Linked DNA regions of Homo sapiens. The protein of the gene in region 4 purifies or fractionates together with the protein of the main gene of each other region. This does not show direct contact. Each region holds a gene or a part of one and is shown on either strand. Other genes may lie near its edges.

Region 1 (4,153 bases), on a different chromosome or scaffold from region 4:
TTCTAAAATTTCAAAATGAAATACTGCAAATAAAGGCCATTATTCAGAAATTAGGGCCTCAGTCAACAATATCCATCGTCCATCATAGGCCGTTGAGGCAAAGGAGCTACTTGAACAAAATATTTTCTTGTTTTATTTGGCTTTCAAAAAGCAAAGACACAGAAGCAAAGTCTCAGAAAGACAAAAGTGCCTGGGATGAACTTACTCGCCACAGTTCAGAATAATTTTTGTTTGTTGTTTGAATAAACATGCATTGATTCCCCTAATGAGTGTCAGGCACAGTGTGGTGCTGAGGAGGTAATGGTGAAAATGACAGCCTTTGCCCTCATGGGACTCCTAAGAGACCAAGGCACACACAACCTCATATAATCCACCATACATGCCCCTTCCAGCCATGTTTATGAAAATCTAGTCCTGTTATACTATTAGACGGTAAATTTTTCCCTTGGTCTGACTCCATGGAACTTCACAGGGAAGCAACTGATACCTTGTAAATAAATAAGTAAACAAATATCCATATTCTCATACCAACAATAACTCATGGGTAAATTTCAATGAGTTTAAAGAAAATTTTGTGAACCTAAGAGCGTATCAAAACGGGTTTTACTTTTGAACCAAGCCGAGCCATATATTTTCATTGCCTGTGGCTATGCAGCGTCAGTAAGCTAAAAATACTTTTCTTTCTTCTAAGTTGGGAAGAGCAAGTTAAGTCCAAACAATCGGATGTGTATCATTTTCTCTCATCTTAAATTTTTTACTAGAAAACACTCAAAATAACTGAAGCAAAGAAGAGGCATCTGTTTCATATCTGCACACACATACACAGAAACATCCCTCTAGCTTGCATCTATCTACCTAGCAATATTAAACAAGCTATATTTGCATCATCAGCAAAGTCTGCCAACATTTCACCACTTACAGCTATTTATTATTATTTTTTGGTTGGGGAGAAAGCTGCATAAGTATTGAAAACTAACCACAAGTAAAAGCTTGCAAAAAAAATATGTATAGGATACGTCCTTAACAAGAGGACATGGTGCTGACTTTGAATTTACGTTAAAAGTAAATTCAAATTCAAATTCTGAATTTACATTTAAAGTAAATTATGTTTGTGAAAATTACATTAAATTAGATTCTAAAATAGGATAGAAACTTTAAGTTCTTCTACAGGTCTTGCTCAAGTTGGGTTTGCTGTGCATGGCAAAGTGAAAACCTGTGTTTCTCCTCTTTGGCTTCCCGAAGCTAACTGTAACATACATGCATCTCTGTGATGAAGTAAAAGCTACTTAGGAAGACAAGTAAACCTGTTTTTAAAGAAATAAACTACTGCAGGATGGTGAATGGTATGTAGTGTGGACTTTTCCCACACATCCAGCATCTCTAAAGACATCCTATTAAATTAAAAGAATAAGAAATAAGAAACTAGCAGGTCCAGATCTAGGTTCCTTCCATTCGACTGGGCCATGACTTTAATTAAGCTGCTGGGTCATGGCTTAATTTTCCCTTGAAAAACAGCACAGTTTGAGAAATCTCTGCCAAACTCTTCATTTTTTAAGCAACTGACAAAGTCAACAAGAAAGCAAATACCTAGAATCCACGGAACAATGCTCCTCAGAGCAGGGCTGGCAGAAGCGGCGGAGGGCTACCAGTTTCCCTGCCCCGATTGCAGCTGGGCCTTTGACAAGAGCTCGGGTAAAGGACTATCTGTGCACCCGCCCACCAAACGCCCAGCGGGACGATGGGCTGGTGCTACGAAGTTCTAAACCTAACCGCTGGGAGGAAGAAGCGGGAGGATGAGAATGTCATCTCCCCTGACACTCTGGTGCCGGCAGTCCTGAAACGCTCACCTCTGACGTCCCTGAAGGTCAGAGGTGGCAACCACAGTGCCAATAGCTCACCAAAGCCACTTTTCCTGCCCGGGTGGAGGCGCGGGGCAAAGTTGGCCACCGGCTGCGCGCGTCCCGTTAGCCGTACCTTGTAACTGGGCGGAGAGGGACTCCTGGTGCTGCTGGTACTTGAGCGCCACCGCCTCGGCTTTCCGCAGCTGCGTCTGCAGCTCGTAGTAGAGCATCGCGCCGTAGAGAAAGCCGAACACGACGGTCAGCAGCAGCAGCGTCTGGAAAATCCGCTTCTGCTTTCGGGAGCACATCCCGTTTCCCATAGTCCCGCCTGGACCCAAAGCCGCGGCCGCCCCCGCCGTCTCCTCCCCTTGGTCCGAGCGAGCGTCTCAGCAGCGGCCGCCGCAGTAGGTGGCCAGACGCAGCATGAGGAGGAGATGCCAGACACAAAAGCCGGCCCGGAGGGGAAGTGGCGCCCGCTCAGCCCCCGCGCGGCGCGGGGCGCGCAGCCATCGACGCCGCCCGGGCAGCTGCAGCCAAACTTCTGCGAGGCTCGTTCTCCGCGAATGCCCGGGGCCGGGAGGAGGCCCTCCGCATACTTCAGAGCCGGCTGCCCTCGCGCCTGTCCCCAGATGCCTCCTGCCTTTTTTCCTTCTTCCCACTTTTTGGCCCCGCTGCCCCCGGGCAGTTCTTGGAGTCCCGCCCTGGCCACTCCCCGCCCTATCGCGGCGGCTCCCACTGCACGACTTTGTTGCCACCTAAGGGAGGGGGTGCGCGCCCAACAAAGGGACCAGGACTCCGGGCCGCGCCCCCGTGCGGCCTGCCCAATGGGTGGAAGGGTGGGGGCCAGCTGTCTCGGCTGGTTTTGGGGACGGCACAGCGGTGTCACTGACGGGTCGGCTGGTGCCTCTGCCGCCCCGCCACCTCCTGCCCAACTTACGTGTCACCCACGGCCCGGCTATTCTGGCCAACGGGATTCCGGGAGGAAGTCCCACTCGGCCTCCTTGCTCATTGGGCCCGTCCGAGCAGACGCTCCCTCCCTTCGGGGAGGCAGTGCCGGGCTCGATTGGATGCCGGCTTTGTCCGTCCGACCCCAGGGCCGCACCTTCCCTCCCAGTGCCGGGGCCGGCTAGGGGCTCTGTGGGCAGCGCGGCCGCCTGGCGCCGGGGTGCGCCCACGTGGAGTCGGAGAGGGTGGGAAGAGGCAGGCGGAAGGGCGAAGGGCGGGGAGCTTTGGGTGGGCGGGGGACTTGTCCGGGCCTGAGTCTGGGTGAGGTTCGGTGAACACGTGTGTGTGTGTGTGTGTGTGTGTGTGTGTGTTCCAGTTCTCGTTCGGAACGCACGTGGAGAGCGGAGTAAAATGTGTGTATGAACGAAAGAATGGATGGCAGTAACTGTGTGCACTCTGCTGAGTACACTTTCTTTCCCTGTCCAATAAACTGATGCGGCAGACACATGGGATAGCTACATAGCACAATCCCGGTAGTCAAACCAGAGATGCCATGTCGACTGCCTTACCCCATCCAGTGTACTAGCCTAGATGTGTGTGTGCCCACAGATGGCCCGGCAGGAGTCGGGAGACTGGAAGCACGCTAGACTTAATGTTCAATTGTCCACGTGGGCTGGGGAAATCGGCTTGCCATTGGCAGAGAGGAAAGAAATGGTCTCACATTTCTCCTCTAGCTGCAAATAGAATAATTTAAAAACAAATCGTACAGACTGAAATGAGTATCCATTCATTTTGTCATATGTATTTGTTTTATTGGTGGCAAAACACATCAGTTACATTTCTAAATTACATTTTAAAGGGCAACAAAGGTTCCCTATGTAAAAACTAGTACAGCACAGGAAAGGTAGTAACCACAAACCTCTTCGAAGAAATGTATACTGCATTTATTTTTTCTGTGTACTTGAGGGGAATAATTAAGGTTATGCACAAATGATAATTTTTGTTTCTGCTGTTGACCTGAATTCTAAGAAAAGTAAATTTTATCTGTCTGTATAGTGTGGTGTAATTTATGATACACTGCATAATTTTTATATTCTAACTGGACTTTAGTCGTTACCATTGCTAATGGGCCTGAGTGCTCAAAATGGGGGTAAATCTCTTTAGCTAAATGCAACAGAAAGACAGTTCCTGGTGCAAAAGTTTTTTTAGGTGGACTCTGAAATTATAGGTTGCTAAAGCCCTAAAATAAACTGAATTTATAACGATGCTACCCTGTGGCATTTATACCACTGTAAAAATAAAGTGTGTCTTGCATGTGCTTTTCCTTAATAAATAATAACTTGCGTTAAATTATTCAAAATGCTTTC
Region 2 (3,500 bases), on a different chromosome or scaffold from region 4:
GTGAGTCTCGCTGAGCCCAGCCTAATTTGCTGACCCACAAAACAGTGAGCTAAATAAATGGTACTTGGTTTACTTCACTGAGCTTTGGAGTGGTTTGTTATGCAACAACTACTAACTAATACAGAAGGTATTGCCTTTCGCGAGTGCTGTGGTTTAGGTGTTTGTCCCTCCAAAACCTCATGTTGAATGAATGAATGAATGTATTTATTTATTTAGAGCCAGAATCTCACTCTGTAGCCCAGGCTGGAGTGCAATGGCATGATCTTGGCTCACTGCCACCTCCACCTCCTGGGTGCAAATGATTCTTATGCCTCAGCCTCCTGAGTAGCTGGGATTACAGGCATGTGTCACCATGCCTGGCTATTTTTAGTAGAGACTAGGTGTCACCGTGTTGGTCAGGCTGGTCTCAAACTCCTGACCTCAGGTGATCCGTCTGCCTCAGCCTCCCAAAGTGCTGGGATTACAGGCATGAGCCACTAGGCCCGGCCTCATGTTGAAATCCGATCCCCAGTATTGGAAGTAGAGCCTAATGGGAGGTGTTTGGGTCATGGGGGAATATCCCTCATGAAAAGATGAATGCCCTCCCTGGGGTCAGGGGATGAGTGAGTTCTCACTCTTATTAGTTCCTGCCAGTGCTGGTTGTTAAAAGAGACTGGCACCTCCCCACTCCCTTGCTTCCTCTCTCATCACATGATCTCTGCACATGCTAGCTCCCCTTCACCTTTCACCGCAAATGGAAATGGCCTGAGGCCCCCACCAGATGCTCAATCTTGAACTTTACAGCCAGTAGAACTGTGAGCTAAATAGACCTCTTTTCTTTATAAATTACTCAGACTCAGGTATTTATAGCAACCCTAAACGGACTAAGCCAGGGAGGGACTGTTTCATGCTCATGAGAAGAAGCTAGTAAGGGAAGAGATGCAGGCAGAGACACAGACTAAAGATGCAAGAGATAAATAAAAAGGATCAAGTGCTTGGAGGGAAGAGTCTTTTCCTCTTAACAGAAAGAAAAGAAAAATCAGGTGTAGCTATTAGGGGCAAAATGTTGAAAAAGTTCTCATCTAATGGTTTCTGCTTTCTCTGTGGAGATTAATTGGCCCCCAACCAAACAGGTAACTCACTCTAATACCCTAAGGATTCTAACTTGGACTGCACACTGGACAATGCATGAGTTTTAGAGTTAAAAAAAAAAAAAAAAAAGGCAGGATTCTCCTATCTTCTAGCTCTGTGACCTGGGGCAAATCATTTAAACTTTCTGAACTTCAATTTCCTCCCTTTAAGAAACATAAAACCTCCTTCCCAGGATTACTGTGACATGCTTGGAACAAAAGAGATGCAGAATAAACAGTAGCTACTACTTTCATTTCTATAAAGTAAACTTACTTATGTGAGAATTAATTCCTTTGCAAATGGTAACATCCTAAAAAGACTCAAATGTACTCCTATGCCCCCATATGGATTCTTATTATCAACATCACACCAAAACAATGTTCAGAAAAAAATTATGCATGTGTATATATATATGTGTATGCATACACACACAAAATTAGCCATATACATACACGTGCATGCACACACACATTATTGGCAAAACCCCATGTATTAGCACAACCCGTTTCTATATTGTTATTATTGTAGCTCTGTAGCATTCTTATGAACTAGAGAATTTAATGAAATTTAAACTGAAATGCTCCCACATAACTTTGGATAAATGGCCTATATTTTTCACATTAGAACTCAAGTCAACTTTCAACTCTTTACCTACCGTAACTTTTTTGTAATTCTCCTAAATTTATCAATATGTGTGCACACGTGTGCCCACACACACACACAGAAATATTTATGTTACATATATCAAACATTATTACCTTTAACAGGAACAATGGAAAAACTGGCCTTGATCATTGATCAGTAAATAATCAGCTTACAAGAAATCACAAAATAAACCCTTCAATATCATTGCCAACAGTGTCTTATGATGCTGGGCTTTATGTAGCAGAAAATCAAAACTAACTACATCTTTGCTCAAGAAAAACTTGCCCCTCAATTACAATCATTAGTAATGAAGAATATAGATAAAAGGACAGAATTCCCAGTCTTACTTCACACTGTGTCCCAGGCTCTGATTGCACTTTCCTGAGTTACTTCTGGCTGGATGAAAAGGTGTCTTTCTGTCTGCATCCCTTCGCACCTCCCAGCTCTCCACTGTTGACTGCTCCTGCTTCTGTGGGACACCTTGCTCTCCTGAGGCTTCACTCCTCCTTCCAACCCGTTTCTCTGCTGTTCACTTCTCCTCTATCCCTACTCTCTCCTGCACACACTCAAGGGCTTCCACTTTAATGATTTTTGTAATTCTTTTTATCAGGATGATGCCCAAATTTCTATTTTTCAGCTTTGATTTCTCAGGTTTCAGGGACGTAATCTTAGAAGAAGATATAGTTTGCCTGATGTCTTGGTTTCTGAAAACTGAATTATCCTTTCTCACAGAATGATGATTCAGCCATTCCTTCTTTCACTCATGTATTTAATAAACATGTATCAAGTGCCATATGCATGCCAGTCCCTGTGCCAGGCACTGGAGGTACAGCAAATAACAAAACACTTATATTCCCAGCCTCTAAATGGCCTACTTCTATTTGTTGAAGGAAATAAAAATATTGTCCACAGGAAATCAAAAGAGAAGTAAAATTGTGTGGCTTGGCTTCTCAGTAAATGTATACTTAATGCGAAAGGAGATATAACCATAGCCAATGTGAGAAGTGCCCGTCTTTTGGGCTCCACCTTTGTAAACAAAGGCCATTAGAGTCCCAGTGTAGGTAGAACATACGTTTTGAGTCTTAAGTAGTAGCAAAGACCAATCAGTCCTAGTTCATAACAACTCTAGGGCAGTTTCCTTCCTAATCAGTTACCAAGTCAGCCATCCAAGGTGAGGGATGCAACCTGTCACAAGACAACTTAGAAAATCCAACTGATCCATGTAAAGATCAAATCTGTAACCTGACGCTGTGGGCCAGGGAGGCACGGCTCTAGGAACACCAAGGAAGACAGATCACAATAAGTGAGCACTGACTATAAAATGAATATTGTTAATGTCATGCCCATCAAATACATAGAAATTTTTAGAGTGCTGTGCTATCTGAAAGACCACAGAGGCAACATCAATTATAGCAACTTATCTGTGAACTGAAAACCTGTAAAATCTGTTGGGTTTTGGAAATGGTTTATGTATTATTCTAACTTGTATCCAGACCACAAGCCAGTTACCAGAGTTCAAGAAAGGCCAGTCCCTGTGCTCCCTTACCTTACAAACACACCCTCCCCACCAGACTCAACATGCCCCAAGCTGAACACTGGACTGTCCCTTCCAAATCAGCTCCTCCTCTCATGCACCCCACCTCAAGACATGGGATTTCCATCTATCCAGTTGTTCAAGCCAAAGACATAGAAAGATCCTTGACATGTCTTTTGACCTTAACCTTATCACCCTGCTACCCCCAAAT
Region 3 (3,500 bases), on a different chromosome or scaffold from region 4:
AGTGTTTAAAAATTAGCTGAGATAATGTATGTGAAGGGGTTGACATGAATTAGGGCTCAATGACAGTTAATATTGTTCTTGTATTATCATTGCTTTCATAACACTGTGTTGAATTCCAGACTGAACAGATCATGCCAAGTAAGCTGAGAACCCCCAAAAGAGCAAAGATCACATTGGTTTCATTATTATTGTGTCACAGGTATGTTATGAAGTGCATTGGTAGTCACTAAATAAACACATAATTGAGTGAATTCAAATACAAGCATTCAATAAGTATTTAGTGAAACAAATTCAACGCTTCTTGTAGGCAGCCCCTACCTAGAATGTTCCAGGTTTCTTAGTTTAGCTCACTTTATTCTTGGTATTCTTGGGACTGTTTTGTTGATTACTTCCTAAATTACTTTTTGGTTATGGTGAGTCAGTCCCCAAGCTTTCCTTTCTAAGAAGATTATACAAGCAACAGAAAGAACTTCTTCCTGTAAAGAACTAGAAATGAATAACCACGTGGGCTATTCATTTGTCTGTGTAGTTTCAGTTTCATACTGAATGAAAGCAGTTGCACCAAAGTATTCCCCTGCCTTCTGTGCTTGAACGTATGCCTTTACTTAACAGTGGATATGGGTTAGAAATTAACATGTGAAGAATTTAATTTTCATTTCTTTGCGAATTTATGAAGACTCCTGTTTGGAAAAGGCTTCCCTATTTTTACTGTCAGTCTATACCCCTGTCCTTCTCTTTGACCTCAGAACCTCGATTTGGTATTCATATATCATTAGTTCAGCAAGTATTTTTTTCACCACCTGCCATGTGGCAAGCACTATTTTTATGGTGGTGATGCCACACTAAATCAAAACCCCTGCTTCACAGAACCTAAAGCATAGCATTTATCAATTTGCACTGTAATTGTTTGCTTCTCTGTCTCCTCCCCTGCTAAGTTTCAGCTTCCTGATGGTAGATGCAGTATCTAATCAAACTTTGAGTCTCCCCCTCAATGTGTAGTATATGGTAGACAGTCATACATACGGATAATTATTGTTTACATACAGAGACCCTTCTTCTTATATTGGTGTGAGAAATGGAACTGAGCACCAGAGATCATATTACGCTTGTCCTTGAAACAGTTTGGCACTAGCTGTGTATTCTTTGACTTCCAAAGTGTTAGTTTGAATTTTAATTAGGATCAGCCAGTAAAATGTGGGAGATTTTACATAAGAATCCAGATTCCCAGCTTCTCTTGTAAAAGCCCACATTCCTGTATCACACAATGAGCTGAAGCTGTGGCTGGTCCACCTGTTTCTTGAGATGGGGCATGCCTTCTCCATTTCACTACAACCCCTACCATGCCCTATCATTTTGCACGTGTCGAGGAGGAGCAAGGGGGTGATGTGTGGTGAGGGGAGAATGAAGTGCTTCCGATTCTACATAAATTCACTGAAAGTGTGTGTTCATAAGCTTATAGCAACCTAACTCCCAACATTGGAAATAATAACTTACTTTTTTTCCTTCAGTGATGTGGAATGCTAACAAGCATTTGTTTACATTTGAACTATATATCATATTGAGTCAACAATCAATTTTGTCTGTTGTTTTTCTGCATTTTCACAGTAGGTTTCCTGTATTTCTCAAATTAAATAATTGCCAGCTACATTCTACTGTGATGTGTATCCTAGTCCAAAGTAAAAATATATCTAAATCTATCTGGTTTAGGATTTTTTTTCCTCCTTTTATGATTATTGAACTAACTCTTTTTATTTGTCTTGGTTTTGTCGTTTGAGACTAGAATACTTAAAAACATAAAATTGAATTAAAATTATAGTTTATCCAACTAAATATATTCATGCTTTGTTTCAGTTATCCTTAAAAAGAAGAGGAAGCAAAGATTTGCCAAAATCTGAAAAAAAGGCTCAACAGACTCCCACAGAGGTATGTGGAAATAAAATTTCAACTAGTACACCAAGTACCTCTAAGTGTATATAATCACAAACTACATTTATAAATAGATATAATGGCCAGATAAACTTATGCAAAACAAAGTCAAATTTGCATATCAATTATGTAGCTGTAGATACAGGTAGTATAAATCAGAATATTTACTTATAAAGCCAACCATAACATCCCTATTATAATTGCTTTACATTGTAAGCACACAGAAAAATGTCATTCGTATTTTATACGCTGCTATATTTGAGAACTATACTCATGATGCTAATCTTGTCCTTTTATAATTAATAAGGTCAATAGAAAGGCTGTTCCTATAGTGTCAGGAGAAAGTAAAGAAAGGAATGTTGCAGAGGGAAGTCAGAAAGGAGAGAAAGGCTCATTATATCTTTAGAGAGCCCTGGAATGAAGTAATTCTCCATACCAGTGATTGGAGAAGCAAAAGAAAGGAGACAAAAGAATAAAAATGAAAGTTGAAAGATGTACTCAACATGGGTTTGTTAAAAACCTTAGAAGCACAGCCACAGTAAAGACTAGCTTTGCTTTCAAGGTAAAAAGAGGTGCCAATGGTTGTAATGAAGAAGATTTTAAAATGGAAGAGGAAACATTTGGGATAAAAATGACACTATTGTTAAGGAAGGGGATCCCAATCCAGACCCCAAGAGAGGGTTCTCGGATCTCGTGCAAGAAAAAATTCAGGGCGAGCCCATAGAGTAAAGTGAAAGCAAGTTTATTAGGAAAGTAAAGGAATAAAAGAATGGCTACTCCATAAGCAGAGCAGCCCTGAGGGCTGCTGGTTACCCATTTTATGGTTATTTCTTGATATGCTAAACAAGGGGTGGATTATTCATGCCTCCCCTTTTTAGACCATATAGAGTAACTTCCTGATGTTGTCATGGCATTTGTAAACTGTCATGGCACTGGTGGGATTGTAGCAGTGAAGACGACCAGAGGTCATTCCCGGTTTTGGTGAGTTTTAGCTGGCTTTTTTACTGGAATGCGTTTCATCAGCAAGGTCTTTATGACCTGTATCTTGTGCCAACCTCTTATCTCATCCTGTGACTCAGAATCCTTAACCATCTGGGAATGCAGCCCAGTGGGTTTCAGCCTCATTTTACCCAGCTCCTATTCAAGATGTAGTTGTTCTGGGTCACACGCCTCTGACATTATAACTCTCCAAAAGCACTTGGCTAGATATTAACCTTTAAACTATGTCAGTTGGAATCTATGGTACTGTAGTATACTTTTGTGATTACAAGGTTTTTTTCACATTAGATAGATAATTTAACTAAAGTGATTTTAAATATTCAAAATTTGAAAAAGTTGATCTCAGACATTTTTTAAAGCATAACATATTAACTATATATTATTTTCCTTTTTCCTCTCTGTACCTGCTCTGTTCCTGCTCTGTTTTCTCCTGGTACTTGCACCAGAACATGTATGGACCTCAGCATTTTTAGAATCCCAGAGAGTCTCACAGCCAAGACCATGATATCATTTTTTGTACCTTTCTCTCTGTTCCCTTAGTAAGTCCAAATATACTCTGTCACTACAGCTTTTCC
Region 4 (3,500 bases):
CCAACAACTTTTCAAGTCTTGGTCTTCTCATTTGTAAAATGGGGACAATGCAAGGCTATGATTTATTCCTCACAGGAAAAAAAGTCCTCTGGAAATGTAAAAGCCGCATTAGAGTAATGTTTAATAATTCAAGATGAGGTCTGGAAGAACATCAACAGTCTCTCACCCTCTGTGCCCAGGCATTTTGAAAGGGCACTGTGCCAAAGTCCATTAGTGCTGGGAATACACATCAGCAGGAAGCCTTTTGCATCTTGACTCCCTTTCCATTGAGCCCCTGAAATCAGATGCCTAACAGGAAGATAGGAAGCTGAAGTGTTATGGGACCCCAGCTATCAGTCAAACGGTTTTCCTAATGTCTCCTTTTTAGTTGTTTTGTTTTAAAGAAAGAATTAGCTTTCACAATCAAGGTTGCTGTGATTCTAAAAATCCCACAAAAATGCCCGCTTGGAATGCCTAGCTTTTCAAGGCTTCAGGTAACCTGAAAGTCCTCTGATTCAGATACTGGCAGAACCTGAACATGCTGACAGCTTGGATTAATTTGGGGGAAAGGATGCAAGGGGCAATAAAATATTCTAACTTCAGATTCAAAGAGGCAGCAATATGGTGAAGAAAAGCACAAAGTTCCAAAACCAGACTGACGTTCTCTCCCCCAACTGACTTGTACATTCAGTGAATTAACTCAGCTGTGTATTTCCCCAATATATCAGCCTGGTGAGAGATGCCATAAACAGACCTGCAGGCAACCCTACAGACATCCCTTATCCCTCCCCTCCTCCAGGGGTATAAAGGAAAGCTAACATTAAGTGAAAGACATAAGTCTAGAGCTGCAATGTCCATAGTGGTAGTCACCAGGAATGTGTGAATAGCCAGCATCCAATAGATAGCTAGTCCAAATTGAGACGTGCTATGTGGATAAAATATCCACCAGATCAAAAAGACTAGTATGGAGGAATGTAAAATATTTCAATATTTTATACTGAATACATGCTGAAATAATATTTTGGGTATATTAGGCTTAAAATATATAATTAAAAATAATTTCATCTGTTTTTTTATTTCTTCATGTAGCTACTAGAAAATTTTACAGTATAGGCAAGGCTCTCAATTGTAGCCCAAACTGTATTTTTCTTGGACAGTGCTGGCTCAGAGCATCCCAGTTTCACCTGGATCCTTTGAAAGGACAAATTGAACATATGGAAATGCAGTCAGGCTCACAAAACAAATAACCTCATTTTCCATGAGGTGACCTTGACACCATTGAAAGAATGAAGCCGATTACATGGCTGTCCTCTCACAGTTGATCTCCAAGTACAAGACTGTTTCTTGTCAGGCTAAATGCTCTCTTGCAATGATCTGTTTTAGATAATACCAAGAAAAGCTCTACAGGGTATGGGTCAAAGCACAGGTACTGGAGTCAGGCCGACCTGGGTTTGAATCCCATCTCTGCCACTTTCTAGCTGGGTAATCTCAGGAATATTATTTAATATATTAAGGTGCCTATTCTCTGTAACAGGACAATCAGATTTCTTCACAGAGAAGGGGAGGGAAGGGTTAACACAGCAAGGGAGATGAAGAATCTTGGGCACCATGCCTAACAGACAGCACTTGAGAATGGTAGCCATCTAGTAAAATTCTAGCAATCTTATCTGAGCACCTTCCAGAATAATGATGAGGTAGGGGAGACGGGGATGGGGTGCAAAGGAGATGGGACCACTTGTCCACAGACCTTGGAGTCAGTGAATTAAAGCCGAATCCTCAGGAACGGTATTTATTCCACACAGTGCAACACTGCCCTCTAGTGACAAAGAGGTGGAAAAGCTTTCAGAGCATGAGGCAAGCAAGGAAGAAAAATACATTTTTCCAGGCTCTAAGACAGTAAGTTCTCCAAATCAGAGAGATCATATCAAAGAATAATTTTTTCTCATGAGTCACCTTTAAAGCAGTGACATGGAGTATGAAGAGCAATATTATCAAGATTTACTACCAACCCAGAGGTTGTCACTTTGTTAATTATATAATATCTCAAATAGGAAAAACAGTAATTCTCTCTAGACATATTAAATGTGACACCTAAAAAGAAGAAAGTCTGAGTGTTCCAGGTTACTCGACATTATTCTGGTAGGACAGCACGGAGGTTTAAGATTCATGTATAACAGTTTGTAAACCAGATTTGATCACAGATTTGGTTAATGCAACTAACAAGGTCAAAACTTAAGGCTGAACTGGTATACAAACTTGGAAGGAATACTTACCATTTTTAACCTCTTTTCTCCTTGCAGAGCACCTAAGTGAGGCTAACAGTACCCTGGGTTGTTGTGGGGAGTAAATAAGAAAGAACACCGAAATGCCCAGCAGAGTGTCTAACACACAAGCAGTAAGTGTTAGCTGCTGCTATTTTTGTTGTTTCTGTTGTTCCAACTGCCACAGGCCCAAATGGAGGAAAAGCCATAAGATAAAATAACTCCTTTTACTTTTTTGGGTTAAAACCAAGGCTTACCTAGTTTCATTTCCTGATGCATCTACCAATCAAATGTATCATTTTATAACAAGAACATCTTAGCACAACTTTGATGTCCCTGAGATTATAATGCTAACTGAAGTTTGGTAATAGTTTAGAATTCAGATACTGATCTTTAATAAGGCAGAAAGATGATGCTGTAATCAAAACCGTCTGCAGAGACAAGACGTGTCACCATTTCTATCGTAAACCTACTATGGTCGTTTTAGGCAGTCTCTGCCCATCTTCATTCTTCTCAATTAACTTGGATGAAAAACATAATACTTTAAATTGGAAATTTTTTATAATAATTTTCCTCACTTAATTTTCATTTTTAATATAGTGATCTCACGTCCAAACATTTCCCATTTGATGATCACCGGGTAACCATGTGACCCCTTAAGCCAGTCCCAGACAACTATAATACATGCTTTCTAGTATTGTACAGTTCTTGTTTCAATATCCTGTAGTCACTTCTATATCCTGAAAAGGAAAAAAAGAAAAAGAAAACTGATACAAAGATATGTGATTACTGATGTCAAGGGTACATGCTAGAGAAGACCAGGAAGCAAGTAAGTGCTAGAAACCCACGTTCAAGGGTCCCACGTGCCCCATCTGCAGAAGGAAGAATGTGAGCTACACACCTTGTCATGGTATGGTCCTAAGACAATCCAGCCACAGAATGTGTAACCCAGATAAATCATACCAGCACAAGCACAAAACCGAAGAACTTTTGGCAGTGAGGCCTGCATTGTTAAAATCAGCACCTGAAAAAAAGAACAGAATGGGTGAAATGAAAAAGTAGCTATTAGAACCCAAAGAATAAATGAGTCTCAACTGCAGTGGCACTACCCGGTGCCGCATCCTTACATTATATGCCTGGAAATAACCCAGGTATCTGATGACTCCAACCCAAACCAAGAGCGTAGAGGTTCCAAGAAAAATGCTGCAGAGATCATAGTTTGTGAGATTCTAAGGAATGAAAAAAAAGAAAGAGAGAAAT

Evidence for each region. Proteins that work in one complex are often made in the same cells at the same time.
Region 1: the proteins of MCOLN2 (region 4) and GOLIM4 purify together in Homo sapiens (affinity purification with mass spectrometry; one large-scale study listed by BioGRID and IntAct). This does not show direct contact.
Region 2: the proteins of MCOLN2 (region 4) and RHBDD1 purify together in Homo sapiens (affinity purification with mass spectrometry; one large-scale study listed by BioGRID and IntAct). This does not show direct contact.
Region 3: the proteins of MCOLN2 (region 4) and MTCL3 purify together in Homo sapiens (affinity purification with mass spectrometry; one large-scale study listed by BioGRID and IntAct). This does not show direct contact.

Annotation. Positions count from the first base shown.
Region 1 is NC_000003.12:168,093,125-168,097,277, forward strand, and holds the start of GOLIM4 (Golgi integral membrane protein 4), read right to left. Parts: upstream 2,801-4,153; 5' UTR 2,162-2,800; coding exon 1,975-2,161; intron 1,703-1,974; exon of another isoform or gene 1,588-1,702; intron 1-1,587. UniProt on the Homo sapiens protein: Plays a role in endosome to Golgi protein trafficking; mediates protein transport along the late endosome-bypass pathway from the early endosome to the Golgi.
Region 2 is NC_000002.12:226,860,054-226,863,553, reverse strand, and holds part of RHBDD1 (rhomboid-related protein 4), read right to left. Parts: intron 1-3,500. UniProt on the Homo sapiens protein: Intramembrane-cleaving serine protease that cleaves single transmembrane or multi-pass membrane proteins in the hydrophobic plane of the membrane, luminal loops and juxtamembrane regions.
Region 3 is NC_000006.12:127,481,336-127,484,835, reverse strand, and holds part of MTCL3 (microtubule cross-linking factor 3 precursor), read left to right. Parts: intron 1-1,851; coding exon 1,852-1,923; intron 1,924-3,500.
Region 4 is NC_000001.11:84,934,614-84,938,113, forward strand, and holds part of MCOLN2 (mucolipin-2), read right to left. Parts: intron 3,470-3,500; coding exon 3,368-3,469; intron 3,265-3,367; coding exon 3,142-3,264; coding exon of another isoform or gene 3,091-3,141; exon of another isoform or gene 2,981-3,090; coding exon of another isoform or gene 2,954-2,980; exon of another isoform or gene 1,753-2,953; intron 1-1,752. UniProt on the Homo sapiens protein: Nonselective cation channel probably playing a role in the regulation of membrane trafficking events. Acts as a Ca(2+)-permeable cation channel with inwardly rectifying activity.